Linked DNA regions of Homo sapiens: region 2 is linked to region 1. A link means that fine-mapping ties the variant in region 1 to the expression of a gene that starts in the linked region. Tissue or cell type: whole blood. Region 1 holds a variant in brackets; the other region holds the start of a gene. All regions are shown on one strand. Distances are between the middles of the regions.

What was found. PIP is the estimated chance that this variant, and not a neighbour inherited with it, causes the effect.
Region 2: NCF1 starts here. The variant in region 1 is fine-mapped to the expression of NCF1 in whole blood (TOPMed, PIP 0.96).

The regions. Positions count from the first base shown.
Region 1 is chr7:74,370,966-74,373,465 of GRCh38, forward strand. It overlaps CLIP2 (CAP-Gly domain containing linker protein 2), which reads left to right. Exons shown (of 17, transcript NM_003388.5): 9 at 1,967-2,071. Among named protein-coding and RNA genes, the nearest start is that of GTF2IRD1, 82 kb to the right of the region's middle. RefSeq lists an enhancer at 1,188-2,186. The variant G/T (reference allele first, on the strand shown) is at 1,401.
Region 2 is chr7:74,772,345-74,774,970 of GRCh38, forward strand. It overlaps NCF1 (neutrophil cytosolic factor 1), which reads left to right and starts at 1,667. Exons shown (of 11, transcript NM_000265.7): 1 at 1,667-1,759. The coding sequence starts at 1,688. RefSeq lists an enhancer at 1-493.

The DNA.
Region 1 (2,500 bases):
GGCCAGGCGTGGTGGCTCACACATGTAATCCCAGCACTTTGGGAGGCTGAGGTGGGCAGATCACCTGAGGTCAGAGGTTCAAGACCAGCAAACATGGTGAAACCCCGTCTCTACTCAAAAATACAAAAGTTAGCTGGGCATGATGGTAGGCACCTGTAATCCCAGTTACTCGGGAGGCTGAGGCTGGAGAATTGCTTGAACCTGGGAGGTGGAGGTTGCAGTGAGCCGAGATCGCGCCACTGCGCTCCAGCCTGGGTGAAAGAGGGAAACTATGCCTCAAAAAAAAAAAAAAAAAAAAAAAGGTTGAGGGGAGGAGTCCTTTGGAGTGGGACCGAATGAAGTTGCCCTTGAAATTGCGAAGCTGGAGGCTTTTTCTTGCCTGTGCGGGCTACCAGTTCAGTGTGTAGGATCATGCACCATCTATGAGGGTTCCAGACAGGGCTGTTGTGCCCACCGACGGGGATAGGGGTGGCTGGGATGGAGCTTGTGATTTTCTGGAAGAGACATGCTGACTTCTTGTTGGCACTGGAACACACTGCCAGGAGGGAGGCGGGGGAGGGAGGGAGAGGAGAGAAAGAGAGAGGGAGGGACACAAAGAGGGGAGACAGGAAGGGAGAGAGGGGAAAAGAGAAGGAGAGAAGGAGGGAGGGAGGGAAACAGGGAGGGGAATGGAGAGAGAGAGGGAGGGAGAGAGGGAAAAAGAAAGGAGGGAGAGAGACGGGGGGGAGAAAGAAGAGAGAGAAAGTGGGAAGGAGAGGGGAGAGAGAAAGGGAAGGACAAAGAGGGAGAGGGAGGAGAAGGAGAGAGGAGGGGAGAGAGAGAACTTTTTTTGTTGTTCCTTAAGGAAAATTCAAGAAATAAAATAGGCCAAAGGACATAATCATCTCAATGTCTCTTAATGAATTGCAGGAGTATTTCTAATCAGGTGATGTCCGTTTACACCTTCACCAATAGACAAGCTTCCGGGGTTTTATTACAGGTTTCACACCTAGAGGCTGTTTTGCTAAGCCCCGCCCCTTCAGAACTGCCCTGCAGCTGCTTTAACCCCTTCTCTCCTGGAGTATAAAGAGGACCCTCTGGCTTCTCCCTAAGATGAACTTGGGTCTCCAAACTGCTCCCAATGTCCTCACCCTCCCAGCTTCCCTTCCAAGATCTGTTCTGTGAAATGCAAAAGCCAGTCTTGACACCCTGAGAATGCTGGCCTTTGTCAGCAGATGAAGCAGATATTGTCGAGCTGGGACAAAAGTGCCCTTGTGATTTGTGGAGACCAGGCGTCCTCTGTGGGGTCCGGTGGGGTGGGCAGCAATGGGGCCCGGGAGTGGGAGGCACAGCCCGGCCTCCACCAAGGAGGCTGGGGCCAAGAGGATCGTGAGGGGTCGGGTATATTTTGGAAACATCTT[G/T]CGTGTTATGGGTTCTTGCACTTTTAGCACAGGCCTTGGGGGGGGGGGGGAGTCGAGCGGGAATCCCGGGGTCCTTTATTTATTCCTCATCCTGTGGGTCTCCTGTGTGGAGGATGCTTTGCCTACAACCAGTGACAGCCTGCAGGGGAACGGGAACAGGATGGGCCCCTCCCCAGGAGCAGATCCTTGATGAGGACCTTCAAGGTCAAGGGCTGCTGGTTGGGGGTTGGGGGGGACAGAAAAGCGAGGTGCCCATTGCTACCCCAAGCAGGGGCCAGCGAGGGAGGATGGCTTGCAGGCCCCCACCCCCCACCGCCCTACACTGACCCAGCCGGGACACAGCAAGGGGTGGGCATGAGGCCCCACACCCCTCGCCTCCCCAGACTTCCTCTCTTTCGCTGAGCAATTCTGGCTCATGAATCTACTCTCCTCGCCTTGTTCACGGAAGATGACGCCTCCTCTCTCTCTCTCTCTCTTTCTCTCTCTCTCCGGCTTCTTCTTCCCTGTGCCCCCCTCCCTGCGTCCCCGCCCCCACCCCCCCACCGTGTCCACCCTGGGTGGACCAGACCCAGACGCAGCTGGAGCACGCGCGCATTGGGGAGCTGGAACAGAGCCTGCTACTGGAGAAGGCGCAGGCCGAGCGGCTGCTCCGAGAATTAGCGGACAACAGGGTAACCGCGCCACCGCACCCGCCTGGCCCGCCAGCCACCTTGCCCTTTGATGCCCCCTCTGGCTTCTCTGTTTCATTATTGACTCTCTTTCTTTAGCTGCTATCATCTTTTTTATTTTTATTTTTTATTTTTGCATCCCCTTGGAGGAGGGAAGTCAAGATTTAGAAATGTGCTTATGTGGCCGGGTGCGGTGGCTCACGCCTGTAATCCCAGCACTTTGGGAGGCTAAGGAGGGTGGATCGCCTGAGGTCAGGAGTTCGAGACCAGCCTGGCCAACATGGTGAAACCCCATCTCTACTAAAAATATAAAAATTAGCTGGGCGTGGTGGCTCATGCCTGTGATCCCAGCTACTTGGGAGGCTGAGGCAGGAGAATCGCTTGAACCTGGGAGGTGGAGGTTGCAGTGAGCTGAGATCGTGCCACTGCACT
Region 2 (2,626 bases), 400 kb after region 1:
CTCATGAACTCATGACCTTGAATGAGCTCCAAAAGCTCTGGGCCTCCCAGGCTCTAGGGGGAGTGGGAGAGAGAGGCCTCAGCCTGTCCCTGGGCATGCTGCCCCCTCCTCACCTCTTTGTCCCAAATCCCCTTCCTGGCAAAGCTGACAGTCTTAATATCACTCTGGAGAAAACTGAGTCAGCCCTAAGGAACAATTCAATGAACCATTTGCTTACTTGAGGATTGGAACTCAAGTCTCACTCAAAGTCTGTGCCATTTTCGTCCCAGCTGTCACTGGCCCTCATCCACACACACCCAAGGATGAGCATCTAACGCTTGCATGCACACTCCCATGCCCGCGTTCATTCACTCATTCATTCATTCATTCACTCATTCATTGACTCATTCATTCATTCACTCACTCATTCATTCACTCAGTGAATGTTGCAGTCACGATCCAAATATTTATGGCCTCTGTGTGCCAGGCACTAGATGGAGGGGCTGGGGCTAGAGCCCCTGATAACCCGGTCATGCCCTAGCTTTCCTGGGACACACATTGTGGTAAGGGGAGACTAAAAAAATTAAGTCAGGCCAGGCACGGTGGCTCATGCCTGAATCCCAGCACTTTGGGAGGCCGAGGCGAGTGAATTACCTGAGGTCAGGAGTTCAAGACCAGCCTGGCCAACATGGAGAAACCCAGTCTCTAATTAAAAAAAAAAAAAATTAACCAGGTGTGGTGGCACATGCCTGTAATCCCAGCTACTCAGGAGACTAACGCAAGAGAATTGCTTGAACCCAGGAGGCAGAGGTTGCGGTGAGCCGAGATCGCGCCATTGCACTCCAGCCTGGGAAACAAGAGCGAGACTCCATCTCAAAAAAAAAAAAGTGGGAGGCAGAGGCAGGAGGATCACTAGAGGCCAGTAGTTTGAGACCATCCTGGGCAACATAGCAGGACCCTGTCTGTACAAAAAAATTAAAAAAAATTTAACCGGGCATGGTGGCACACACCCGTAGTCCCAGCTACTCCAGAGGCTGAGGCAGGAGGATCGCTGGAGCCCAGGAGTTGGAGGCTGCAGTGAACTGTGATCCCACCACTGCACTTAAGCCTGGATAACAAAGCAAGACCCTGTCTCAAATAACAATAGCAATAATAATAAAGAAAAATTAAATGCAATTTGCGATGCATCAGTGATAAGTGCTCTGCAGAAAAAGGAGGCAGGAAGAGGCTGAGAAAGGTATGAGGTTTGCTATGCAATGTGAAGTTATCAAGGAAGGCTTCTCGGAAGAGGTGACATTTGAGCAGAGAAATGGAGGAGAGTTATGGAGGGAAGATGGTGAATGGGGGGAACATGGTCAAGACCAGGAATATGGTCAAGGGGGGAAAGATGGTCAAGGGGACGCAGCAAATGCAAAGGCCCTGAGGCAGGAGCAGCTTGATTCACCCCCAAAACCCGTGGGGCCCGTGCAGGCGACGGGAAGGACAAGTGTAAACCCTTTTCCTTGTCCCTGCAGGTGTGTGTGAACATGAGTCTGCCCATGTTTACACCCTGCAAGCCTGAAGAGTCCCCAGAAACTGAAAGAAGAAGCAAAGCCCTTTCTGTACCCTCCCTGCCCCCTGTCCCGACCGCGACAAAAGCGACTTCCTCTTTCCAGTGCATTTAAGGCGCAGCCTGGAAGTGCCAGGGAGCACTGGAGGCCACCCAGTCATGGGGGACACCTTCATCCGTCACATCGCCCTGCTGGGCTTTGAGAAGCGCTTCGTACCCAGCCAGCACTATGTGAGTAGCTGGTGGAGGGCATCCCGTGGGGGGAATACGGGAGGGACAGCACGGCCACCCTTGCAGTCCCAGGGCCAACCAGCTCCAGTGAGGACTAACGGGGCAGGGTCTTGGGCACCTGGTCCCTGGTCTTTGAGCCTGGATCTACCCCTCTGATCCCTGGGAAGACAGTTCCCTTGGACCCGCCCTGGGCCCCAGCCCTTTACTGTCCCCGCCTGTGTCCCCAGCCAGGCCCTCAGCCTTAGCCAGGAGTCCTCTTTCTGCTCCCCTGCCATGGCCAGGCAGCCCAGCGCTCTCTCAGGTCCGAGGCCCACTCCTCCAGGAAGCCTTCCCTGACTAGCCCAGCTATCAGAGAGTGGCCCTCCCAAGAGGGAGGCCTGGAAACTAAAGCTCTCTCTCTCCCCAGCTGCCTGTAGTGTCAGTTAGAGTCTTATCCTCTCCAGTAGGGTGACACCATGACAGGGGCCAATAGAGTCCTCCCATCTGTCCCCAAGGAGGCTGGACAAATGCCTGCTCAGACACACAAGTCCACTGGGTCCCCTAATCCCATAGGAAGGCCAGGGAGGAACTACATTTAGGAAATTGAAGCTTGTATGGAACATTTAGTCCTATGTGCCAAGACCTTTCTCTTTTTTGTTATTTTTTTGTTTTTTGAGACAGAGTCTTGATCTGTTGCCCAGGCCAGAGTGCAGTGGCACGATCTCAGCTCACTGCAACCTCCGCCTTCCAGGTTCAACTGGTTCTCCTGCCTCAGCCTCCAGAGTAGTTGGGATTACAGGTGCCCACCACCACGCCTGGCTAATTTTTGTATTTTTAGTAGAGACAGGGTTTCACCATGTTGGCCAGACTGGTCTCAAACTCCTGACC